Regions from separate parts of the Homo sapiens genome. Here region 1 is linked to region 2. Evidence: fine-mapped expression QTL. A gene starts in region 2. The other region holds a variant in brackets. All regions are shown on one strand. Distances are from middle to middle.

Region 1 (11,655 bases), 40 kb after region 2:
GCTGGGATTACAGGTGTGAGCCACTATGCCCGGCCCCTCCTCCCCATACTTCTTTAGACTGCTCAGATATGAAATAACTTCAGAAACCTACCCAAATATTATGATCCTGCATGTTTGCTATTTCACAATCAATGACATTTTGAGGCCACATTGACTATAAATAATCACATCTGTCTTTGGAAAAGCCACATTTTGTTTCACACTAATTTTTTTTTTTGTCCTTGCAAAGTTGGCTTTCTGGATGGAGAGAATGATGTGTCTGGCAATAGGGATCTGTACATTTCCTATTTCAAGAGCACACAAAGTACTGACATCTGAAATGAAAACACAAAAGGAAAAGCTTAAACTTGCCACATAGGAAGTTCTTCATGCTTGAATAGTGTCTTCATAACCATAATGGGATTTTTTAGGATTATAATAGTTCTTTTTAAATGCTTTATTTACTTAACAAATAGTAATCAAATCATTGCAAATTCTTATATGGAAGATTTAGGCGCTGGCAGCAATAGTTACATAAATTATAATGTCAACTATGACAAACCTTCTATGTGTCTAGAGCTAGAATATAAAATAGAAGTGTGCCATCATGGCTACAAATGGTTAAGAATATAGATTCTAGGCCGGGCACGGTGGCTCACTCCGTAATCCCAGCACTTTGGGAGGCCAAGGAGGGTGGATCACCTGAGGTCAGGAGTTCCAAGACCAGCCTGAGCAACATGGTGAAACCGTGTCTCTACTACAAATACAAAATTAGGCCAGGTGTGGTGGCTCACGCCTCTAATCCCAGCACTTTGGGAAGCCGAGGCAGGCGGATCACCTGAGGTCAGGAGTTCGAGACCAGCCTGACCAACATGGTGAAACCCCGTCTCTACTAAAAATACAAAACTAGCCGGGCATGGTGGTGCATCCCTGTAATCCCAGCTACTCAGGAGGCTGAGGCAGGAGAATCGCTTGAACCAGGGAGGCAGAGGTTGCAGTGAGCTGAGATCGCGCCATTGCACTCCAGCCTGGGCAACAAGGATGAAACTCCATTTCAAAAAAATAGATAGATAGATTGATTGATTCTAGAGTCAGAATGCCTGTGTTTGAGTCCTGGTTCCACCAGTCATCAGCCAGGTAGTCGGGATCAGGTTATTTAGCTATTTTTAATCTTTTTTTCTTTTCGTGCCTCATTTTCCTCACTTATAAAATGGGTATGTTAAAAATAGCACCTACCGGCTGGACGCAGTGGCTCACGCCTGTAATCCCAGCACTTTGGGAGGCCGAGGTGGGTGGATCACAAGGTCAGGAGTTCAAGACCAGCTTGGCCAAGATGGTGAAACCCCATCTCTATTAAAAATAGAAAACTTAGCCGGGTATGGTGGCGGGCACCTGTAATCCTAGCTACTTGGGACGCTGAAGCAGAGAACTGCTTGAACCCGGGAGGCGGAGGTTGCAGTGAGCCAAGGTCGCACCACCGCACTTCAGCCTGGGTGACAGAGCGAGACTCCGTCTCAACAAAAAAGAAAAAGCACCTACCTCATAGATTGTTGTAAGAATGATAGATAGATATAAAATAATTAGAACAGTGCCTGGAGTATAGCAAGAACTCAATCATGGTTGCTGTACTATTTAGAAAAAAACAATTGTGGTGAGATTGCTCTTTTTAAGCTAGTGGCTGTTAAGTATCATTCATGTTATATTTTTAAAAGTATGAAATGACCTTTCTACTTCATTTACAGAGTTGAAACTGTGGGACAGCCAGACAGAAGAGATAGCATAGGAGTGTGTGCAGAAAAACAGGATGGATATGACTCTCTGCAGCGGGATCAAGCTGTGTGCATTAGTACAAATGGTAAGAGATAAATAACTGTCATTCTCTTGGAAATATATTAATTATTTTAGTAATATGTGAATCTGTTCCAGTTCCATACATTTATAGTAGGAGATGAGAAAATTTAGGTATTTTTCTTTTTCTTTTTTTTTTTTTTTATTATGAAGTCTCACTCCATCACTCAGGCTGGAGTACAGTGGCATGATCGTAGCCCGCTGCAGCCTGAAATTCTTGGGCCCAAGCCATCCTCCCACTTCAGCCTCCTGAGTAGCCGGGACTACAGGTGCATGCCACTGTGACTGGCTAATTTTTTTTATTTTTACTTTTTTGTAAAGATAAGTTGTTGCCCAGGTGAGTCTTGACTCCTGGTTTCCAGCAATCCTCCCACCTTGGTGGCCTCCCAAAGTGCTGGGATTACAGGCGTGAGCCACCGTGGCTGGCTGAAAGTTTTGGTCTTAATGACATAATTTATGTGACTACCATGTACCAGGCATTGTTCTAAATTCTACAAATAATAAATCATTCAGTCTACATCCCTAGTGCTCTTTAAAAATCGCTAGCCAGAGGCCGGGCGCGGTGGATCACGCCTCTAATCCCAGCACTTTGGGAGGCCAAGGCGGGCAAATCACGAGGTCAGGAGTTCAAGACCAGCCCGGCCAACATAGTGAAACCCTGTCTCTACTAAAAATACAGAAAATTAGCCAGGTGTGGTGGCGGGTGCCTGTAATCCTAGCTACTTGGGAGGCTGAGGTAGGAAAATCGCTTGAACCCGGGAGGCGGAGGTTGCAGTGAGCCGAGATCATGCCAGGTAACAGTGTGAGACTCCGTCTCAAAAAAAAAAAAAAAAAAAAAAATTCACTAGCAAGACATGTTAATAATATTTTGTGGTGTTGGCTGGGCACGGTGGCTCACGCCTGTAATCCTAGCACTTTGGGAGGCCAAGGTGGGTGGATCACAAGGTCAAGAGATCGAGACCATCCTGGCCAACATGGTGAAACCCTGTCTCCACTACAAATACAAAAATTAGCTGGGCGTGGTGGTACATACCTGTAATCCGAGAGGCTCAGGCAGGAGAACTGCTTAAACCTGGGAGGTGGAGGTTGCAGTGAGTCCAGATCATGCCACTGCACTCCAGCCTGGGCAACAAGAGTGAAACTCTGTCTCCAAAAAAAAAAAAAAAATTGTGTTGGTGAGTCAAGAATTCGGTAGAACAAGATTCTTTCTTGTTTATTCCATAAGAAATAGTCTTGCTATTTCACAGGAGGTAATTTTGTAACACTGTCAAGTTTCTTTTGATGACACTGATATGGGAAACTCATAGTCTCTGCTGGAAGAGTACAACCCTGGACAGAACTCTAAAATCTATGTCCAGTTGGCATTCCAGATTTTTTAAAATCTGAATTAGGAAATGAGCTGTGTTACCAGTAATCTAGAAACTATTTCAGATCTCTTAGTTATTGCTCACATGTAAATGACTCTTTACCTTAACATTTTAGGTGCAGTTTTTGTCAATGGAAAAGAAATGACAAATCAGTTACCCGCAGTTACTTCTGGGTCCACTGTCACGTTTGACATTGAAGCCGTGACTCTAGGAACCACCAGTAATAATGAAGGTGGACACTTCAAGCTTCGAGTAACTATAAGTTCAAATAATAGAGAAGTGGTTTTTGACTGGTTACTTGATCAGTCTTGTGGTTCTCTTTACTTTGGATGCTCATTTTTCTATCCTGGATGGAAAGTGTTAGTGTTTTAGATGTTTGGGTGCTTGGCTTTGGTTTTCAGGGTCTAACGTAGCTGTCCTCAGCCCAGCGTAGTTGTAATTGCTTTAAAAAAAAAGTTGAATT[C/T]ATCTCTAACTTAGGCCATTGGAAAGTGTTTACTGGATTCATTTTGTAATATTTTAGCAAAAAGAGACTTCAATGTTGTGGACAAAATCATACAATTCAGTCAATTTTATTTTTAGCATACTGTTAAATATCACATCACAATAAAAATCAAATTGGCATTAAAAGTATAGAAGATATAGGAAGTTCTATACCCTTCCACTGTACTTCTCAAAGTTGGTTATTAGACCAGGAAAACTTAATGTAATATTATTTTTAAAATCATCTTAAAGGATCCAAGTCCATGTAACTCTTTAGAACAAGAGGAATAGGTCAGATAGAAGAAGCTGTGTAATGTATTAATACATCCGTTCATGTGCTGTCCACATGAATGTGTTGACTGTGCTCTCCATGTTCAGGTATTTGTAAGCAGTGTTGACTTTTATCCCCTCTTCAGTAATCTTTAAGTCCCCAAAACATTATAACTTTTTCTTTTTTTGTTGAGACGGAGTCTCACTCTTGTCACTCAGGCTGGAGTGCAGTGGTGTGATCTCAGTTCACTGCAACCTCTGCCTCCCACGTTCAAGCGATCCTCCTGCCTCAGGCTCCTGAGTAGCTGGGATTACAGGCGTCGGCCACCACACCTGGCTAATTTTTGTATTTTTAGTAGAGACAGGGTTTCACCATGTTGGCCAGGCTGGTCTTGAACTCCTGACCTCAGGTGTTCCACCCACCTCAGCCTTCCAAAGTGCTAGGATTACAGGTGTGAGCCACTGCAGTGGACCAATTTTTGTATTTTTTTAAATGCTTGACCAAGTGTCTAAAATAGGCAAGTAGTACCTTTTGTTCTTTCATTGCAATTTGATACAGTATAGGCTACAGTATTTTTACAGGGTAAAACTAGTTATGGCAGTAGTATGCACAGCAGTGTTAGCCATTTCATATGTATGTAATATGCACGTGTGTATCCAATCTGCCTGTGACATGCATTTTACTCTTTGCAGAGAATGAGCTGCAGTCCAGTTTAATGTCAGTTTAATAAGTGGTCTCTTTTTAGCAGAGCAAAAAAATATAGCGTAAATACTTATTTTTTTTAAAAACTTACTTAAATTTGTGTGTAAAATATTTATTTGAAGGACTTTAATATGTAAAAATAATTGTCTTCTATGCCACCCTACAGATTTTATTTTAATGTGAATTATTTTTTTCATTTCATTTTTACCAGTATAGTAAAAAAGTAGAAAAGCAAGTATGATATTTTTGTAAGATAATTTATTTGGGGATTCATGTTCCCTGTTAGACAATCATGACCTTTTCTACTTGTCTTTTTATATATAAGTAGTAGATTTCCACTTGTTTAGGGATTAAGAAGATGTTCTAGAATGTAGATACCTTGTCCAGCCATAGGAATCAAAATAAAAAACTAAAAAAGTTCAGTGTGTGTACTTTTTTCTTCTGTGAGATTTGGTGAATCCAGTTTTAACCTACTTTTCATTTGAAGGGAAAACAGGCTTCTTGTGGCTCCAGGCATTTTAGTAAGATATCACTGTGACTTGTGAAAGGGTATGTGTACCTTCTTGTACTTTCTTTTAAAAACTTTTTTAAAAATATTTTTTGTAGAGAATGAGGGTCTTGCTGTGTTGTCCAGACTGGTCTCAAACTCCTGGCCTCAAGCAGTCCTCCCCAGCCTTGGCCTTCCAAAGTGCTGGGATTATAGGCATGAGTGACCACACCCAGCTGGTTACTTGTACTTTCCTATATTCTGTGTCTGATACTGAGCATCTTGCCTGACACAATGTGTGCAGAATGAATGGTGGATCGAATGAGTCGTTTTCTCCAGATATCTTCATCTCATTCCTTTAATTCATCAAATATTTGTTGAATGTATTTATTTCTTAGCCTCTCTAGGGAAATGACATCTTAATTTATACCTATAGAATCTGCCTGTTCACAGGAGTGCCTTAAACCTAATTTGAGACAGGAGTGGTAATATTTGGAACTCTGAAACTAATTTTTTTTGAGACAGAATCTCACTTTGTTACCCAGGCTGGAGTGCAGTGGTGCAATCTTGGCTCACTGCAACCTCTGTCTCCTGGGTTAAACGGATTTCCCTGCCTCAGTCTCCCAAGTAGCTGGGATTACAGGTGTGCACCACCACACCTGGCTAATTTTTATACTTTTAGTGGAGATGGGGTTTTGCCATGTTGGCCAGGCTGATCTTGAACTCCTGGCCTCAAGTGATCCTCCCACCTTGGCCTCCCAAAGTGCTGGGATTACAGCCGTGAGCCACTGTGTCTGTCCTTGAAACTAATTTAAATACTGACTTTTTTTCTTGAACTGTGAAGATTTTTTTTAAAAAAATGAACTCATTAGCTGGGCGTGATGGCTCACGCCTGTAATCCCAGCACTTTGGGAAGCCAAGGCAGGTGGATCACCTGAGATCAGGAGTTTTGAGACCAGCCTGGCCAACATGGTGAAACCCCGTCTCAACTAAAAATGCAAAAATTAGCTGGGCATGGTGGTAGATGCCTATAATCCCAGCTACACAGGAAGCTGAGGCAGGAGAATCACTTGAACCCTCCGGGAGGTAGAGGTTACAGTGAGCTGAGATCACATGATTACAGTCCAGCCTGGGCAACAAAAGCAAAACTTTGTCTCAAAAAAAAAAAAAAAAAAAAAAAAAAAAATCATTCTGTTCAAGTAAGTAAGGGAACCTAGTACTCCAAACCTATGTGCTAGGAGGGAAGAGTTTGTGTGATGATATGATCACAAGAATTGATTTTTTGGCTGGGCATGGTGGCTTATGCCTAGCCATTTTTTATTCACTTAAAAAAAAAATTTGGCTGGGTGTGGTGGCTCACACCTGTAATCCCAGCACTTTGGGAGGCCTAGGCTGGTGGATCACCTGAAGTCGGGAGTTCGAGACCAGGCTGACCAATATGGTGAAACCCTGTCTCTACTAAAATTACAAAAATTAGCTGGATGTGGTGGCGCACGCTGGTAGTCCCAGCCACATGGGAGGCTGAGGCAGGAGAATTGCTTGAACTCGGGGGGTGGAGGCTGCAGTCAGCCAAGATCTTGGCACTGCACTCCAGCCAGGACAACAGAGCAAGACTCTGTCTCAAAAAAAAAAAAAAAAAAAAAAAAAATTTAGCCAGGTGTTGTGGTGCCCACCAGTAGTTCCAAAGCTACTCAGGAGACTGAGGTGGGAGAATTGCTTGAGCCTGGGAATTCGAGGTTGCAGTGAGCCTAGGCAACATTGGTAGACCCCATCTCTTAATAAATAAACACAAACAAAACAAAGAAATAGAGCAACTAGATAGATAACAAAAGCAAAATCCCCTGGATAATATCTACAGTAAGACTAGGTGACCACTTACCCCCTCAAATCCCAAAATACAAGCTAGTGAAGACGAACTACAAACAGATACAAGACCTGCATGATCTCAGTGTCTGTGCAGGATGAAGAAGGCGCAAAGCCTGACAGATGTGATGACAGGCGAAACCCCATATCATCGACTGGAACTCCTGGAAAGCACCATGGAACAACTGAAAAGTAGCAACTGAAACTCTAGAAATTTGTTTCCCTCCAATACCAGATGAATGCAAGTGGGCCATGCGTGGTAAATGTGTTCAGGGGTGCTTAAGATCACTTTCACTTTCAATTATTTGCCAGGACTCACAGAACTCAGAAAAGCTCAGAACACTCATGGTTACTATTTAGTAAAGCAAAAAGACACAAATTAAAATTAGCAAGTTTGGCCGGGACTGCTGGCTCACACCTGTAATCCCAGTACTTTGGGAGGCCAAGGTGGGAGGATTGCTTGAAGCCAGGAGTTGAAGACCAACCTGGGCAACATGATGAGACCCCCATCTCTACCAAAATAAATTTTTTTTAATTAGCCAGGCATAGTCAGGCATTAGCCAGCTACTCAGGAGGCTAAGGTGGGAGGATCACTTGAGTTCAGGAGCTTGAGGCTACAGCGAGCTGGAGTACAGTGGCAAATGTAGTTCGCTGTAAAAATAAATGGCCAGGCACAGTGGCTCACGCATGTAATCCCAGCACTTTGGGAGGCCGAGGCCGGCAGATTACGAGGTCAGGAGATGGAGACCATCCTGGCTAACACGGTGAAACCCCGTCTCTACTAAAAATACAAAAAAATTAGCCGGGCGTGGTGGCAGGCGCCTGTAATCCCAGCTACTCAGGAGGCTGAGGCAGGAGAATTGCTTGAACTTGAAAGGCAGAGGTTGCAGTGAGCCGAAATTGCACCACTGCACTCCAGCCTGGCGACAGAGCAAGACTCCATCTCAAAAAACTATTTAGACTAGAATGTAGTAAAAGTGTGTTCAGAGACTAGTTTGGACACAGCACTCCACAGGAATTTATCTTATAAAATACTTGATACAGGTTCAAGTATAATCACTATTAACATTTTTGACAAGATTTTAAAAAATCAAATAACCCACTTATCTATTAGACCAGCACTGGTTTAGTCAATTAAGGAACCCAAAAAAACAAAACAAAACAAAAAAACTCAGAACGTTTAAAAAGAAGTAAATCTATATGCTCTGACTTAAAAGGATGCCCATTTTACAGGGTTAAGAGCTTCCAGATAGGCCGGGCACAGTAGCTCACACCTGTAATCCCAGCACTTTGGGACTCCAAGGTGGGTGGAAAACCTGAGGTCAGGAGTTTGAGACCAGCCAAGCCAACATGGTGAAACCCCCAGGCGTGGTGGCGCATGCCAGTAATCTCAACTATTCAGGAGGCTGAGGCAAGAGAATTGCTTGAACCCAGGAGGCAGAGGTTGCAGTGAACCGAGACCGTGCCATTGCACTCCACCTCTGGGTGACAGAGCGAGACTCCATCTCAACAGAAAAAAACAAAAAAAAGGCCAGGCCGGGCACGGCGGCTTATGCCTGTAATCCCAGTACTTTGGGAGGCCGAGGTGGGCGGATCACAAGGTCAGGAGTTCGAGACCAGCCTGGCCAACATGGTGAAACTCCATCTCTACTAAAAATACGAAAATCAGCTGGGCATGGTGGTGCGCGCCTGTGATGCCAGCTACTCAGGAGGCTGAGGCTGGAGAATCGCTTGAACCTGGGAGGCGGAGGTTGCAGTGAGCCAAGATCGTGCCACTGTACTCCAGCCTGGGTGACAGAGTGAAACTCCATCTCAAAAACAAAACAAACAAACAAAAAAATCCAAAAACAACAACAAAACCAACAACAACAAAAACCCTTCATATATATAATCCTTATAGTCTCATGAATAAAAACATACTTTAAAACAAGAAATTTAAAATGAAAAAGATCATAAAGATAAATCCATACAGAAAACCCAAAGAGTATAGATAAAAATTATTTGAAATCTCATCACCTGGAGTTAACCACGATTATAAATTTTAGAAAGAGGGAAAATATATATATATATATATATACACACTTATGTAAAAATTTAATATGGAAATCTTGTCAAACTATCATCCTTTTTAATAGCTTTTTAGATTTAACGTGTTTCTAACGTTTCATTATTTAAAAAATGCTGAGAAAACCTGTTACCTACATCTTTTGTTAACAAGTTACATTGTGACAAAAATATAAAATTTGAATTGTTAAAGACTATATATACAATTTTAACTTTATATATATTGCCAGTCTGCCCTATAGTAAGACTGTATCAACCTTTTTTTTTTTTTTTGAGACAGAGTCTTGCTCTGTCTCCCCGGATAAAGTGAAGTGGCAAAATCTCAGCTCACTGAAACCTCTGCCTCCCAGGTTCAAGTAATACTGCTAAGCCTCCCAAGTACCCAAGTAGCTGGGACTACAAGCACCTGCCACCATGCCTGGCTAATTTTTGTGTTTTTGGTAGAGATGTGGTTTGACATGTTGGCCAGGCTGGTGTCAAACTCATAACCTCAGGTGATCCACCCGCCTTGGCCTCCCAAACTGCTGGGATTACAGGCATGAGCCACTGAGCCCGGCCCCCAACTGTTACATCAAAATATTATTTGAGAGTATATGTGTCCTCACGTCCCTAAAACACTAGAAACTGTCAAACTTTTAATCTTTGTCAAACTCTCAAAAGTAGTATCTCTGCATTTGCATGCCTTTGAGTACTAATAAGGTTGAGTACTGCTTTAAAAGTTTGCTGGCCATCTCTTTGTTTTTTTAAGAACTGCGTGATAGTCCTTCACACATATTTCTTATTAGACTGTGTATCTTTTTGTTTCATAATTCACAATATTATGTATTCATATTAGCATTTTGTGTTACAGATATTTCCCCCATTCCATAATTTGTTTCTAACTTTAGATATTTTGCAGTATAAAAATGACTAATTTTAACCCGACAATTTTTACTTTATGCTTTCTTACTTTTCAATCATCCTTAGAAGGGTCTTCCTCACTGCAATATATTAAATATATTAACATTCACCTATTTTTTTTTCCATGCTTATGAATGTTCATTTTTACATGTTTATGAGCCTTCCAGAATGTATTAGGCCTAAGATTATTTCCAGATGACTGGAGAAGAGTTGTCACAATTAATGAACAGTTTCTCTTTCTCACATAGCTATACCAACACCTTTATCATAAACTATTTCAGGACTATGCCTGAATAGATAAGCATATCTATTCCTATGGTTATACCATAGGGTTTAAGTTCTCTTAACTTTATGGTATGTACAACGGTATATTGTATATCATACTAAAACTGGTAAGTAAAAATTCTCAAAATATTTTTCTAAAATTTCCCTTAGTATTACTAAATACTTATCCTTTTAGATTAACTAGGAACTAATTTTAAGACTTAAAAAAATCCTTATGAGATTTTGCATCGGATGGTACACTGACCTAACATATTTAGAAATAAAAGACATCATTACAGTTTTGAATCTCCCTATTTAAGAAATGTATGGATTCCTCTTTATCTCTTAAGAGTTATTTTAAGTATGCTTAATCTAAATTCTGCAGATTTCTTGATAAATGTATTACTAGTCATCCCTTATTATCTGCCATTACAATGAATAGAATTTAAAATAGCCGTTAACATTTATTGAGCACTTATTGTATGCCAGGCACTGTACTAAATATTTTATTATTTCATCTAATCCATCAATTCTATGTCTCATGTTACAGGTGAAGAAACTGAGACATGGATAAATAACTTGCCAAATGCCACATAGCTAGGAGCAGAGATTTCAATCAGGCAGTCTGGCTCTCAAAGTATGATGCCTTCCGTGTGGCCGGGTGCAGTGGCTCATGCCTGTAATCCCAGCGCTTTGGGAGGTCAAGGTGGGCGGATCACAAGGTCAGGAGTTCCAGACTAGCCCGGCCAACATGGTCAAACCCCGTCTCTACTGAAAATAAAACAAATTAGCCAGGCGTGGTGGCACGCACCTGTAATCACAGCTGCTCGGGAGGCTGAGACAGGAGAATCGCTTGAACCCGGGAGGTGGAAGTTGCAGTGAGCTGAGAGCATGCCACTGCACTCCAGCCTGGGAAACAGAGCAAGACTCCCCCTCAAAAAAAAAAAAAAAAAAGGAATGATACCTTCCGTTAAATGCTCTGACTAGATCATTTACTTGTGTTTTTTAAAGTATAAAAAACAAAGGCCTCTACTTCCAACATGAATTAGCATTTGGGGAAGAAAACATCAATCAAAAATGGGAGTTCATAACTATAATGTGCTCAACCTTCTAAGTAGTCCATAGCTTCCCATCAAGAATAGTCTCCCATGTTGCTCTTTTCTTGCTTATTGGACATTCTTCCATTTCCTGCATGGCTACTTCATATTCCCCATCTAAAAGCTGTAAGCGCCTGTTAGACAAACACATATACTTTAAAGTAACCTGTGTTATTACTATAAGTACACAAATTCTACATCTTTAGATTTATACTAAAACCATTTATTAAATTTATAAACTAGCTTACATACTCAACAAGATTTTAAAAATACAGCTACACTGCAGTCCTGATGAAAGCAATTTTAATGATGTACACTAAAAACTGTATTACT
Region 2 (16,192 bases):
CAAGCGATTCTCCTGCCTCAGCCTCCTAAGTAGCTGGAACTACAGGTGCGTACCACCATGCCCAGCTAATTGTATTTTTAAGAGACAGGGTTTCAACATCTTGGCCAGGCTAGTCTGGAACTCCTGGCCTCAGGTGATCCACCTGCCTTGGCCTCCCAAAGTGCTGAGATTACAGGAGTGAGCCACTGTGCCCAGCCAATTTGCTTTTTTTCACTCAACTTTTTATTTATTTATTTATTTTTTTTTTTTTGAGACGGAGTCTGGCTCTGTCGCCCAGGCTGGAATGCAATGGCGCGATCTTGGCTCACTGTAATCTCCACCTCTCAGGTTCAAGCGATTCTCCTACCTCAACCTCCTGAGTAGCTGGGATTACAGGCTCGTGCCACCATGCCTGGCTTTTTTTTTTTTTTTTTTTTTTTTTTTGTATTTTTAGTAGAGATGGGTCACCATGTTGGTCAGGCTGGTCTTGAACTCCTGACCTCGTGATCTGCCCGCCTGGGCCTCCCAGAGTGCTGGGATTACAGGCGTGAGACACCACACCAGGCCTCATTCAACACTTTTTTCAAAAGCCATCCATGATACATATAGATTTGATTCATTCCCTTTCTTTCCTGAACATTCTATTTATGCAACTCATTTTATTTATTCATTTCCTTATTATTATCATTTTTATTGTTGTTGTTTTGTTTTTGTGTTTGAGACAGGGTCTCACTATGTCACCAAGCTTGAGTGCAGTGGCATGATCTCTGCTCACTGCAGCCTCAAACTTCTGGGCTCAAGCAATCCTCCCACTTCAGCCTCCCAAGTAGCTGGGACTACAGGAGTGCGCTACCACGCCCGGCTAATTTTTTGTATTTGTAGAGAAGAGGTTTGGCCATGTTGCCCAGGTTGTATTATTATTATTTTTTTGAGACAGGATCTCACTCTGTCACCCAGGCTGGAGTGCAGTAGCGTGATCACTGCTCACTGGAGCCTCCACATCCCTGGCTCAAGAGATCCTCCCACCTCAACTTCCCAATTTGCTGGGACAACACGTTCGCCATAATGCCCGGCTAATTTTTGTATTTTCTGTAGAGACAGGGTTTTGCCATGTTGCCCAGGCTGGTCTGGAACTTCCTGGGCTCAAGCAATCCTCCCTCCTTGGCCTTCCAAAGTGCTGGGACTACAGGTGAGCCACCTGTATCCATTTCCTTACTGATGAATATTTAAATTGTCTCCAATTTTCTGTTATTCAAATGCTGAGGCAATGAACAGTCTTGTCCATGTTTTCTTCAACACGTGTAATGTTTCTCTAGGATTCACATCTAGAAATGGGATTGTTGGGTTATATACGGTGTTCTCTAGTGCTTTTTATTCTTCTGAGTTACAAAGCATTTAAACTGCATTAAGTTGTTAAGCATTTCCACTGAGTAGTTTTAGATACATAGTATTTTACCAACCCTTATTTAGGAGCTCATGGCTTTTATCAATTTTAATCTAAATGAACTCTCACATGGTAAAGCAATTCACAGTTTACAGAGTGCCCATGTCATTTCAGATTATCTTCCCCATGTGTCTAACACCTACTTTTAAAAATCGTTATTGTTGTCTGGGCGGGGTGGCTCACGCCTGTAATCCCAGCACTTTGGGAGGCCAAGGCAGGTGGATCACCTTAGGTCATGAGTTCAAGACCAGCCTGACCAACATAGTGAAAAACTCATCTCTACTAAAAATACAAAATTAGCCGGGTGTGGTGGCGCACGCCTGTAATCCTAGCTACTCAGGAGGCTGAGAATCACTTAAACCCGGGAGACAGAGGTCGCAGTTAGCTGATATCGCGCCACTGCACTCCAGCCTGGATGACATAAGAGTGAGACTCTGTCTCAAAAAAATTAAAGAAAGGAAGAAAATAAAGAAAAAATATGGGTGGGGCATGGTGGCTCAGGCCTGTAATCAGAGCACTTTGGAAGACCAAGGCAGGGAACTGCTTGAGCCCAGGAGTTCTAGATCAGCCTGGGAAACATACAGAGACCCTGCCTCTACAAAAAAAAAAAAAATGTAAGGCTGAGGCCGGGAGCAGTGGCTCACAACTATAATCCCAGCACTTTGGGAGACTGAGGCAGGTGGATCATCTGGAGTCAGGAGTTCAAGATCAGCCTGGCCAACATGGGGAAACCCAGTCGCTACTAAAACTACAAAAATTAACGGGAGTGGTGGCTCACAGCTGTAGTCCTTGCTACTTGGGAGGCTGAGGCAGGAGAATTGCTTGAACCCGGGAGGCGGAGGTTGCAGTGAGCCGAGATCGTGCCACTGTACTCCAGCCTGGTTAGCAGAGCAAGACTCCATCTCAAAAAAAAAAAAAAAAAAAAAATTAAGACTAGGTGCAGTGGCTCACACCTGTAATCCCAACACTTGGAGGCCAAAGTGGATGGATTGCTTGAGGTTAGGAGTTCAAGACCAGCCTGGCCAACTTGGTGAAATCCCATGTCTAATAAAATACAAAAATTAGAGCCAGGTGTGGTGGCTCACGCCCATAATTCCAGCACTTTGGGAGGCTGAGGCCGGCGGATCACAAGGTCAGGAGTTCAAGGCCAGCCTGACCAACATAGTGAAACCCCGTCTCTACTAAAAATACAAAAAATTAGCTGAGCGTGGTGGCCAGTGCCTGTGATCCCAGCTACTCAGGAGAATGGGGCAGGAGAATCGCTTGAACCAGGGAGGCGGAGGTTGCAACGAGCCGAGATCATGTCACTGTACTCCAGGCTGGGTGACAGTGCAGGACTCCATCTCAAAAAAACAAAAACAAAAAAAGAAAACACAAAAATTAGCTGGGTGTGGTAGTGGGCGCCTGTAATCCCAGCTACTCTGGAGGCTGTGGCAGGAGAATTGCTTGAATCCAGGAGGTGGAGGTTGCAGTGAGCCGAGATGGTGCCACTACACTCCAGCCTGGGCGACAGAGGGAGACTCTGTCTCAAACAAACAAAAAAATTAAAGAAGTGTCTGGGTCTACTGGCAGGTGTCTATAATCCTACCTACTAGGCAGACTGAGGTGGGAGAATCGTTTGAGCCCAGGAGATCAAGGGTGCAGTGAGCCCTGATTGTGTCACTGCACTCCAGCCTGTGTGACAGGTGACAGGCAAGCCCCTGTCTCAAAAAAAAAAAGCTGGAATGAAAGGTGGAGTCAGAGAGCAAAAAATTGTCAACTATGTGTCCAGTACAGTTAGGAGCGTTCTTTTTTTTTTTTTTTTTTTTTTTTTTTTTGAGACGTAGTCTTGCTGTGTCGCTCAGACTGGAGTGCAGTGGCACTATCTCAGCTCACTGCAACCTCTGCCTCCTGGGTTCAAGCAATTCTCCTGCCTCAGCCTCCTGAGTAGCTGGGATTACAGGTGCGCGCCACCACCAAGCCCGGCTAATTTTTTGTGTTTTTAGTAGAGATGAGGTTTCACCCTGTTAGTCAGGTTGTTCTTGAACTCCTGACCTCGTGATCCACCCACCTAGGCCTCCCAAAGTGCTGGGATTACAAGCATGAGCCACCACACCCAGCCCAGTTAGGAGCTTTCTGAGAAGAGGTTGGAGACAGGAGAGGGAAAAAGCCTTTGCTGACCAGATGACCAACGTATTCTGATCTGAATCCAACTCTCTGGTTATAACTTGATTTTCCAGCTATTGTGATTTTTTTCAACAATTATATTCCTGTTGTAAATAAATAAATTGGCAAGCTGCTTAGTTTGTTTCTTGTGAGTCTTATTAGCAAGAGTCTGTTCCCTGGAATCCTCTGGGTACACTTGAAAAGTCAGTTCTGGACCAATGTGATGCCATGGAGATATCTCTGTAAAACTCTGTCTGATGGCTAGCTGACATCTACTTCTAAACCAGTTTCCTCGAGAACATTTACTCTTTAGGAATTCATGCTCTAAATTTAAAAACAATGCATCTAAAAATGTCAAGTCTAGGGGTAAGCAGTTTTAGAATATTTCCTTCAATTTTCTTATTTGTTTTGTTTTTGGGTATAGTGTAGATATGTTAGATACACACTTCTTGCCTTCCATCAGACTAAGAAAACAAAGTTGAATGAGACCAAGATTCATGTCCTGGTTTTATGGAAGTTTTCCTTGTAATTTTACTTATTTATTTATTTATTTTTATTTTTATAGACATAGGGTCTTGCTATGTTACCCAGGTTGGTCTCTAACTCCTAGGCTCAAGGAATCCTCCCACCTCAGCCTCCTGAATTGCTGGGACCACAGGAGGGCGCCACCACCCGCGGCTAATTTTTTTTTTAAATCTTTTTGTAGAGAGGAGGTCTCCTCATGTTGCAAAGGCTGGTCTCAAACTCCTGGGCTCAAGCAATCCTCCTGCCTTAGCTTCCCAAGATTACTGGTGTGAGCCACCATGCCCTGCCCATAAGGTTTTATTACATACAGTCACACCTATTGTGACAGATACCTTCCGGTCTGGCAAGCCCAAGCCCAGCTTATTCACTACGGTCCTTACAGATAACACTTGCCAACACCCTTCTTGGACTTGTGCCAGAATTGCTGTCCTGCTGGTCATCTCTTGGGCCTCTCTCTTGGATCCCCCATTCGTCCACGAGCTTCTGGGTGGTGACACCTGGGTTTTGTTGTTGTTTTTTGAGACCGAGTCTCGCTTTGTTGCCCAGGTTGGAGTGCAGTGGCACAATCTTGGCTCACTGCAACCTCTGCCTCCCGGTTCAAGCAATTATCCTGCCTCAGCCCTCGAGTAGCTGGGATTACAGGCGCCCACCACCACACCCGGCTAATTTTTGTATTTTTAGTAGAGATGAGGTTTCACCAGGTTGGCCATGGCTGCTCTTGAACTTCTGACCTCAGTGATCCACCCGTCTCGGCCTCCCAAAGTGCTGGGATTACAGGCGTGAGCCACTGCTCCCCGCTGACACCTGGGTCTTAGTAAATTCCCCTAAGGCCTGCTCTGCTCTTAAGGACCAGGGCTTTTGTCATCAGATCTGGGCTCAAATTCTGCGGCTTGGAAAAGTCGATTCGCTATTTTTTAAAATTTTTAATTTAAAAAAAAGTATTTTTTATTTAGAGACAGGGTCTCGCTCTGTCGCCCAGGCTGGAGTGCAGTGGCTCCATTACAGCTCACTGCAGCCTCGGCCCCCGGGCTCAAGCGATCCACTGGGACCACAGGCGTGCTCCACTACGTGTTGCTAGTAGTAGCAGTAGTAGTAGTAGTAATAGTAATAGTAGTAGTATTTTTGGTGAGAGAGGGTTTCGCCGTGTTGCCCAGGCTGGGTCTCGAACTCCAGAGCTCAAGGGATCCGCCCGCCTCGGCCTCCCAAAGTGCTGGGACTGCAGGCGTGAGCCACCGCGCCCGGCCGATTCCCCCCTTTATCCCTCAATTTCCTCATCTGAGCAATGGAGATACAGGTAGGGCTGAAGGTCAGGCAAGAATGCGATGAGCTGTGAGAAGCACTTGGCAAGGTGCGGGTTATCAACCTTGCCAGGCCTCAGCACGTTTCCCAAGGAGGCCCAACCAGCGGCGCTGTGCCGCAGCACGGAAGAGGCGGGGTGAGCCGCGGGGCGGGCGGCGCTGGGACCCGGACGCCACCCGCGCGAGGCGCCGCCGTGCGCCCGTCAATCAAGGTCGTCGTGGGGCATGGGGCGGCGGGGCTGGGCGGTGCTTCCGCCTGCGCGAGGCCGCGCCGGGCCGCTTGGAGGCGCCCGGTGCAGTCGGGAACCCGCGCTAGGTTTCGCCGGCCGCGCGGCCAGATGAGGGGGGCGATGGAGCTGGAGCCTGAGCTGCTGTTGCAGGAGGCCCGCGAGAACGTGGAGGCAGCGCAGAGCTACCGGCGGGAGCTGGGTCACCGGCTTGAGGGGCTGCGTGAGGCGCGGAGGCAGGTCGGAGGGCCACACCCACAGGGGCGCTGTGGGCCCGGGGGTGGCGCGGATGCCGGGCGAAGGCTGGGAGGGCTTTGAGGGGTGGGACTGTCCGAAAACTCTGGAGTAGGGAAGAGGCATTCATTTGAAAGGAGACCTAATGGAGTCTGGGAACGGGGAAGGTGGGAGTTGGGGAGGTCGTAAGGGGAAGTTTTGGGGGTGGAGGGAGGGTGTGAGGAGCGTTCACTAAACTGTGGGGCAGCGATGGGAGTAGCGGTGGCCTCCGAAGTTTGGGAGAGTGAGGGACCAGAGCAGAATCCGAGGGGGTCATGCGGGTAGTGATGAGTCGGGGGAGGAGGAGACTGGTAAAAAACCTGCGGTGGGTAGGCGGGGAGGCATTGATTTTAGAGAGCCTGAGGAAGAGGTGGGACAGTGACCTGGGAGAGCTGAAAGTGGAGACAAAATGGATATTGGAAGGGGAGGACTAAGGGGCGAGAGTGAGGGAGAGGTAGGGATTGAGAAGCAGTAGCATTTGACAATAAATGCGGTTAATGCCTGAATAATATGTCATACGATCTTGAATGCTTTTTAAAAAATCATTTAGAGTAATCCTGTTCTAGAAGGTTTAAAATTTAAGGTGAAGGTGAAGCTATGTTGGAAGAGCAGAAGGAAAATGATTTCCTTTTCCTTGAGAGAGGGAATACAAAGGTATAGAGAAATGGAAAAATAGATTTTAAGAGAGGAGTGCTGAAAGGAAAAGCTAAATATAATTTCAAGTGGTGCAGTTATCTGTTTCACAGGGCAAGAGTTATCAAAGATACAGGAAAGCCATATGGTTTCTCTATACCCTCGAATATATATAGAAAAAGATATAACCCGCTGCCAATTGGCGATAGGACGGATAATCTTCAGAGTACTATTAACGCAACTGCTTAATAAGTGCTTTTTGAGTGAGTGGGATTCCATCTGAATTTCTCTGGGTCATACTTGATATTAATCTAGTTGGTCGTCTTAGCACTTCCTTGCTGCATATAACCTGAAAATGGTAGAAAAGTGCTGTGCTAACAGTGTCTTTGGATATTCTCATCATTAACGACTCAACATGTTTTGGGTTTTATATATATATATAAAACATATACAAACATATATAAGTATGTATATATATAATCTGTTTTTTTTGAGACGGAGTCTGGCTGTGTCGCTCAGGGTGGAGTGCAGTGGCACTATCTCGGCTCACTGCAACAACCTCCGCCTCCCGGGTTCAAGCGATTCTCCTGCCTCAGCCTCCTGAGTAGCTGGGATTACAAGTCTGCGCCACCACACCCGGCTAATTTTTGTATTTTTAGTAGAGAGGAGGTTTCACCAGGTTGGCCAGGATGATCTTGAACTCCTGACCTCGTGATCCACCTGCCTCAGCCTCCCAAAGTGCTGGGATACAGACGTGAGCCACCGCGCCCGGCCGGGTTTTATATATTTAAAAATATTTGTAAAGCCAGTGTAGGCCAGACATCATTTGCATTTTAGTGGCGAAACCGGAAGCAGAATCTAGATATGATTATGCTGATTTGGTGAATACTTTTCAAGGCCTTTCAATGCACTCATCTCTATTTCTCTTTGAAAATATCTGCATTATTCCTTCTGCTATTTTGAAATAGGGACTCTAGATGTAAGACATTGTATGAAAAGAAAGATATTAAAATACCATCTAACATTTCAGTCAGTTAAGATGTATTCTATATGACCATGATTATTGTTTTTGTATTAGCAATTAAGAATCAGAGTTGACACTAAATGAGTGAGTTTAGCACCTGGGAGTAATTAATTTCTCTTGATATTGGATGCATTAAAAAAAATCGTGATTACACCCTAGATGGTTCAGTATTCAATTTTCAAACCTGTATTTTTTCAATTTTATATCCAACAATTTAAATACAGGACATGCTTTTCTGTGGTTTAGTTTATTATGAGCTTTGTTTTGTTTTGTTTTTGAGGCCCATTGTCTTGGGCTTCAGACAGAAAACACTAAATGAACATCGATCACAATTAGGTTCCTGATGACATTGCCTTCTGACTAGACTGAGTAATAATGTAGTTCTCTTTTGTGAGTGTGAGTCTCTTTTGGGAATGTGTTTTGTGCCAGTGGCAGTTACAACAGCATCTCTCGAAGCTAACTCTAGTGGATTGTGCATGTTTGGGTTTGTGGCATAAGTCCTCTGTCAACTTGCATTTTAAGGAAGGTCTATGGTACAAAAATATTATCAAAGTAAGCAGCTGCTTTTGTTTGGTGGTTTGGATATTTTTAGGGTTCCAGTCATTTTCAGAATAACTGTAAAATATATGGCACTTTAGTCAAGGATTTTGCATGGGAGAAGCATGAGAAGAGCAGAGAGGAAGGGATGCCACCTGTCGTCTGTATTTTTTACTTGCTGATTTTATATCTTTTTGGCAGATGATTTCTTTTCTTTTTTTTTTTTTTTTTTTGGCGGGGGTGCGGACAGGGTTTTGTTACGTTTCCCAGGCTGGTCTCCAACTCCTGGGCTCAAAAGATCCTCCCACCTCTGCCTTCCGGTGATGGAATTACAGGTGTGAGCCACTGTGCTGCCTGGCATGTGACTTTTTTTATTGAGATATAATTCACACACCGTAAAAGTCATGCCTTAAAGTTTACAATTCAGTGGTTTTTAGTATATTCATAGAGTTGTCCAACCATCACCAGTGTCTAATTCAAGTATATATTCATCACCCCCAAAAGAACTCCTTAGCTGTCACTCCCATACCCCCTGGCAACCACAAAACTACTTTGTCTCTATGGATTTGCCTATTCTGGTCATTTCATATAAATGAACTCATACAGTATGTAGCCCCTTGTGACTGACTTCTTTGACTTAGAATAATGTTTCAAGGTTCATTGATGTGGTAGCATGTAACAGTACTTCAAACCTTTTTATGGCTGAATAATTGTTATGTGGATATACCACATTTTATTTATCCATTCATCAATTAATGGACATTTGGATTATTTCCACTTTTGACTATTATGAATAATGCTTCTGTAAAGAATTTGTAGACAACTTTTTGTGTGGACATGTTTTCAGTTGTTTTAGAATATAGCTAGGAATTGGTGGATCACATGGTAACTTTTTGTTTAACCTTTTCAGAAACTCTTGGCATACTTTTTTTCCTTTTTTCTTTTTTTTTTTTTTTGAGAAAGGACCTCACTCTGTCACCCAGGCTGGAGTGCAGTGGCACAATCTCAGCTCACTGCAAGCTCTGCCTCTCAGGCTCAAGTGATCCTCCCATCTCAGTGTGCCGAGTAGCTGGGACTACAGGCACGTGCCATCACCCCTGGCTAATTTTTTGTATTTTTGGTAGAGATGGGGTTTTGCCATGTTGTCCAGCCTCCTGGGCTCAGATGAACACCCACTTTGGCCTCCCAAAGTGTTAGGATTACAGGCTTGAGCCACCGCACCCAGCCTCTTTTTTTTTTTTGAGCCAGAGTCTTGCTCTGTCACCCAAGCTGGAGTGCAGTGGCATGATCAGAACTCACTGCAGCCTCGACTTCCTAGGCTCAAGCCATCCTCCTGTCTCAGATCCCCAAGTAGCTGGGGCTATAGGTACACACCACCACACCTGCCTAATTTTGTTTAATTTTTTTTAGTAGAGATGATGTCTTCCTGTGTTTCCCAGACAGTTTCTTCCTTTTTTTTTTTTTTTTTTTTTGAGAGAGTCTCGCTCTTTTGCCCAGGCTGGAGTGAAGTGGCACAATCTTGGCTCATTGCAACCTTCAGCTCACTGCAACCTTAGGCTCACTGCAACCTCCGCCTCTTGGGTTCAAGAGATTCTCCTGCCTCAGCCTCCCGAATAGCCAGGATTACAGGCGTCTGCCACCATGCCCATCTACTTTTTGTATTTTTACTAGAGACAGGGTTTCACCATGTTGGCCAGGCTGGCCTCGAAGTCCTCACCTCAGGTGATCCTGCCCACCTCAGCCTCCCAAAATGCTGGGATTACCACCGTGCCTGGGTGAGCCACCGTGCCCAGCTGCCAGGCCGATTTCTAACTCCTGAGCTCAAGCAATCCTCTTGCCTCGGCCTCCCAAAGTACTGGTATTACAGGTGTGAGCCACTGCATCTGGCCTACCTTTTGTCTTTGCTTTAGTTTCTTATCCTTTAAACTCTAGCATGAAATTTGTCTCGTATTGAGAAATCATGTTGTATGAACATTTAGAAGGAAGAAGAATAAAAATGTTTTTAAGTTATTCTGTCAAAACTGCCAACATGTAGCAGTTTCTCCTCTTGTGGTTAAGTTTGGGCTCTACCCTCTGTTTTCAGAGAAAAGGAAGTTCTGTGTAGGAATGCAAGGATTGTCTGTTAACTCTTAATGTTTGAATAAGTTAAAGGCTAGAAAGCTGTTCATTGTCTTCAGGAAATCAGATAATGTTTACAGCCAACTTGGCCTAGCTGATGTTGAAATCATTAAGAATAGTTCTCTATAGCTCACTGGAATCCTTGGTACTAAGATGTAAATACCAAAGAAATTAACTCCCACTGTCCTTAAATATTCATTTGTTCATTCACTCAATAAATATTTATTGGGTGCCTACTGTAGGGCTGAGAAACTTCTAGGTCCTAGATTCTGTGTTCAAGGAAATAGATCACTGCCCTCATGGATTTATGCTTTCCTCTTTCCTTTGGTGGCTGATACTTAGGTTACTACCCCTAAAAACAAAACAAGTAAGAAAAATATAAGTTCTATTTGTGTATTCATTTTTATATTTCACTTCTATTATATCTTTCATCACTTGTCCTATTTCTACAGCATTGGCCTTTCTGTTTGTTATAAGTAGAGATCCAGCCTGGCCAATATGGTGAAACCCCGTCTCTACTAAAAAAATACAAATTAGCCAGGTGTGGTAGCGTGCACCTGTAGTCCCAGCTACTCAGGAGGCTGAGCCAGGAGAATTGCTTGAGCCGGGCAGGCGGAGGTTGCAGTGAGCCAAGATCACACCACTGCACTCCAGCCTGGGCGACAGAGCGAGACTCCATCTCAAAAACAAAAACGTAAGTAGAGATAACTGATCAAAATGTCACGTAGTGATGTCAGCTGGCCACTCAGGCCTCACAGAGTGGCACCACCTTGATGACAATGCCAAAGTCAGGGCCTGGTCTTTAATCTTTGTAAGTCCAAAAACTTCATCTTGGTACATTATCAAAGGGGAATTAGTTGAGGTACTGGAGGTGTCTACAGTGAGAAATGCCAGTATTTTAGTCTGTGTGTTGTAGTTCACTCTATAAAATGACTATGTTGGCTTTCATGTACCTTTTGGTATTCTGATTCAGTATTTCTCAGGACACTGACAAAAGCAAGTCTCTGCTCCTTCAAGAGCAAATGGTAAGATCCTGGTACCTAATTAAGATACTAGTTGGTGGCTGGGCTCAGTGGCTCACGCCTGTAATCCCAGCACTTTGGGAGGCCGAGGCGGGTGGATCACATGAGATCAGGAGTTTGAGACCAGCCTTCAACATGGCAAAACTCTGTCTCTACTAAAAATGTAAAAAAAATTAGCCAGGTGTGGTGGAATGCACCTGTAATTCCAGCTACTCTGGAGGCTGAGGCAGGAGAATTGCTTATACCTGGGAGATGGAGGTTGCAGTGAGCCAAGATGGCACCACTGCACTCCAGCCTCAGCAACAGAAGAAGACTGTCTCAAAAAAAAAAAAACACTCAAAAGTTATTTCAAAAAACCAAGACAGGAAGTCTCAGTAGCTTAGCAAAGAAAAGAAAGCTGTTGGCCAGGCGTGGTGGCTCACACCTGTAATCCCAGCATTTTGGGAGGCTGAGGCGGGCGGATCACCTGAGGTCAGGAGTTTGAGACAAGCCTGACCCATACGATGAAAACCTATCTTTACTAAAAATACAAAAATTAGCCGGGTGTGGTGGTGGGCGCCTGTAATCTTAGCTACTCGGGAGGCTGAGGCAAGAGAATTGCTTGAACCCAGGAGACGGAGGTTGCGGTGAGCCGAGATCATGCCACTGCACTCCAGCCTGGGCAACAGGAGTGAAACTGTCTCAAAAAAAAAAAAAAAAGGAAAAGAAAAGAAAGCCATTATTGCTCCTTTTATCTCCCACTTCCCCTTCTGTTACCCATTTTGAAAACACTACAAAAATCTGTGTATAATTTGTTACAGTAGTAGTATTTAAAGTGTCCCTATTATAGTATTCTAAGAAAAGGTTAAATCCAGATACAGGGAAAACCAAGAACAGATGAAATAATTTTTTTTTTTTAATGAAGTTTCGCTCTTGTCGCCCAGGCTGGAGTGCAATGGCTCAATCTTGGCTCACTGCAACCTCCACCTCCCAGGTTCAAGCAATTCTCTTGCCTCAGCCTCCTGAGTACTTGGGATTACAGGTGCCCGCCACCACGCCCAGCTAATTTTTGTATTTTTAGTAGAGACGGGGTTTCACCATGGTGAAGGCTGGTCTCAAACTCCTGACCTCAGGTGATCCGCGCATCTCGGCCTCCCAAAGTGCTGGGATTACAGGCATGAGCCACCACACTCAGCCCAGATGAAATAGTTTTAAAATAACCTACTACTTACAGACAACTGCAGTTAACTTTTTTTTTTTTTTTTTTTTTTTGGGATGGAGTCTCACTCTGTCGCCATGCTGGAGTGCAGTGGCGCCATCTCGGCTCATTGCAACCTCTGCCTCCTGGGTTCAAGCCATTCTCCTGCCTCAGCCTCCTGAGTAGCTGGGACTACAGGCGCCTGCCACCACACCCAGCTAATTTTTGTATTTTTAGTAGAGATGGGGTTTCACCACGTTGGCCAGGATGGTCTCCATCTGTTGACCTCATGATCCACCTTCCTCGGCCTCCCAAAGTGCTGGGATTACAGGCTTGAGCCACCCTGCCTGGCCTGCAGTTAACATTTTGATGTATCTTTCTATACATATTATTCTGCAAAGTTGAGAGACTACTGTATATGCAACTTTGTATCAATTTTTAATTTTTATTAACATTATAAGCATTTTGTTAGCATTATAAGAATTTTGGTAACATCATAAGCATTTACAAGAATATTTTTCCCATGCAAAGCTTTTTTTTTTGAAGACGGTCTCACTTTGTCACCCAGACTGGAGTGCAGTGGCACCACCTTGGTTCACTGCAACCTCCACCTCCCGGGTTCAAGCAATTCTCCTGCCTCAGCCTCCTGAGTAGCTGGGATTATAGGCGCATGCCACCACACCCGGCTCATTTTTTGTATTTTTAGTAGAAGGAGGTTTCACCATATTGCCCATGCTGGTCTTGAACTCCTGAGCTCAGGCTGTCCACCCACCTCGGCCTCAAAAAGTGCTAGGATTACAAGCGTGAGCCACTGTGCCTGTCCCACAGCCTCATTTTTAATACAGAGGTGGAGTCTATTGTAGATATTTAAAGGAACATTTGTTGGTGGTAGGTTGCAATGTATTGATTCTGGTACCCCAAAATACTGGAAGCAAAACTAATTGCAAATAAGGGGGGTAAAAATAAAAGCCACACATATACAGTCAAAACAACAGGGATATATTCTCAGAAATGTGTCATTGGGCGATTTTGTCATTGTACAAACCTAGATGGTATCATCTGCTACACACCTAGGCTATATGGTATATTCTATTGCTCCTAGGGTACAAGTCTGTACAGCATGTTACTATACTGAATACTGTAGATAGTTGTAACATAACTGTAAGTGTGCATCTAACATAGAAAAGGTGCAGTAGGCATGCTGGCTCACACTTGTAGTCCCAGCACTTTGAGAGGCCAAGACGGGAAGATCTCGAGCCCAGAAGTTTGAGACCAGTCTGGGCAATATAGGGAGACCCCCATCTCCACAAAGAAATTAAAAATTAGCCAGGTGTGGTGGTGCATGCCTGTGGTCCCAGCTACTCGGGAGGCAAAGGTGAGAGGATTTATTGAGCCCAGGAGGCTGAGGGTGCAGTAAGCCATGATCACACCACTGTACTCCAGCCTCGACAACAGAACTAGACCCTGTCTAAAAAAAAAAAAAAAAAAAAGAAAGAAAGAAGATACAGTAAAGACATAAAAATATAGTAATATAATGTTATGGGACTACCATTATGTATGTGATTGTCATTGTCCAAAACATCATTATGTGATGCTTGACTGTATTTGTTTGCAAAAGACCACATATTTACATTGGTTTTTGAGTCAGTCTTTTCACCAATAAATCTTTTTACAAGTTGTCTTTTTTTTTTTTTTTTGAGATGGAGTCTTGCTCTGTCACCCACGCTAGAGTGCAGTGGTGCGATCTCGGCTCACTGCAACCTCTGCTTTCCGGGTTCGAGTGATTCTCCCACCTCAGCCTCCCGAGTAGCTGGGACTACAGGTGCATGCCACCATGCCCGGCTAGTTTTTCTATTTTTAGTACAGACGGAGTTTCACCATATTTGCCAGGCTGGTCTCGAACTCCTGACCTCGTGATCTGCCCGCCTTGGCCTCCCAGAGTGTTGGGATTACAGGTGTGAGCCACCATGCCCGGCCTACAAATTGTCTTTTTTTTTTTTTTAACTTTTTATTTCCTGAACAACACCAATGTACAGAAATCATCTTTAAATATGGTACTCTGAAAGCTGCTGGTTGAGTTTAAAACTCCCCAGAAATATAGAAGGAGGTCAAGGAGAATTAAAACAAGCCATTCTGGCCGGGCTCAGTGGCTCACACCTGTAATCCCAGGATTTAGGGAGGCCAAGGCGGGCGGATCACCTGAGGTCAGGAGTTCGAGACCAGCCTGGCCAACATGGTGAAACCCCGTCTCTACTAAAAATACAAAAAAGTTAGGTGGGTGTGGTGGTGCGCCTGTAATGCCAGCTGCTCAGGAGGCTGAGGCAAGAGAATTACTTGAACCTGGGGGTTAGAGGTTGCAGTGAGCCGAGATTGCGCCACTGCACTTCAGCCTGGGCAACAGAGTGGGACTGCATCTCAAAAAAAAAAAAAAAAAAAAGAAGAAACTAGCCATTTTCTGGTCGGGCAGGGTGGTTTACTCCTGTAATACCAGCACTTTGGGATGGCAAGTTGGGTGGATTACCTGAGGTCAGGGTTTCAAGACCAGCCTGGCCAACATGGTGAAACCCCATCTCTACTAAAAATACAAAAAGTTGGCCAGGCGCAATGGCTCACACCTGTAATCCCAGCACTTTGGGAGGCCAAGGCGGGTGGATCACCTGAGGTCAGGAGTTCGAGACCAGCCTGGCCAACATGCTGAAACCCCATCTCTACTAAAAATTCAAAAATTAGCCAGGCTTGGTGGTGGGTGCTTGTAATCCCAGCTACCCGGGAGGCTGAGGCAGGAGAATTGCTTGAACCTGGGAGGCAGAGGTTGCACAGAGCCAAGATTGCGCCACTGCATTCCAGCTTGGGCAATAGTGCAAGACTTCATCTCAAAAAAAAAAAAAAAAAAAGAAAGAAAGAAAAAAGAAAGAAAAAAATGTGTGTGAATGTTATAGAGGTATGTTTTTGTGTGTAGATTTTTTTGTTTTTTAAAGACGGAGTTTCGCACTTGTTGCCCAGGCTGGAGTGCAATGGCGCAATATTGGCTCACGGCAACTTCCGCCTCCCGGGGGTTCAAGTGATTCTCCTCCTTCAGCCTTCCGAGTAGCTGGCATTACAAGCATGTGCCACCACACCCGGCTAATTTTGTATTTTTAGTAGAGATGGGGTTTCACCATGTTGGTCAGGCTGGTCTCAAACTCCCGACCTCAGGTGATCCACCTGCCTCGAGCTCCCAAAGTGCTGGGATTACAGGCATGAGCCACCATGCCCGGCAATTTTGTTTTAGTGTAGATTGTAATGTATATAATTTTGATAGAGAACTATTTTTTTTTTTTTTGAGGTGGAGTCTTGCTCTGTCACCCAGGCTGGAGTGCAGTGGCACGATCTCAGCTCAGCGTAACCTCTGCCTCCCGGGTTCAAGCGATTCTCCTGCCTCAGCCTCCTGAGTAGCTGGGATTACAGGCTCCCACCACCACGCTCGGCTAATTTTTTTGTATTTTTAGTAGAGACAGGGTTTCGCCATACTGGCCAGGCTGGTCTCCCAACTCCTGACCTTAGGTGATCCGCCTGCCTCGGCCTCACAAAGTGCTGGAATTACAGGCATGAGACACTGCTCCTGGCCGATAACTATTCTTATTGCTATAAATCTGGTAAAGAATATGACTAATTTGTCATCTAAAAAGCCAAACAAATATAAGACAGCCTTTTATTGTTATTACTATTATTATTATTTTTTCGAGACGGAGTCTTGCTCTGTCACCCAGGCTGGAGTGCAGTGTCTCAGTCTCGGCTCACTGCAACCTCT

The links. PIP is the estimated chance that this variant, and not a neighbour inherited with it, causes the effect.
Region 1: its variant is fine-mapped to the expression of CRLF3 in tibial artery (GTEx, PIP above 0.99).

Annotation. Positions count from the first base shown.
Region 1 is chr17:30,776,098-30,787,752 of GRCh38, reverse strand. It overlaps CRLF3 (cytokine receptor like factor 3), which reads left to right. Exons shown (of 8, transcript NM_015986.4): 7 at 1,722-1,834; 8 at 3,310-5,069. The coding sequence ends at 3,566. It also overlaps the pseudogene SUZ12P1. Among named protein-coding and RNA genes, the nearest start is that of CRLF3, 43 kb to the left of the region's middle. The variant C/T (reference allele first, on the strand shown) is at 3,658.
Region 2 is chr17:30,814,189-30,830,380 of GRCh38, reverse strand. CRLF3 (cytokine receptor like factor 3) reads left to right here and starts at 5,689. Exons shown (of 8, transcript NM_015986.4): 1 at 5,689-5,858. The coding sequence starts at 5,730. RefSeq lists an enhancer at 5,396-5,690 and a silencer at 5,398-5,777.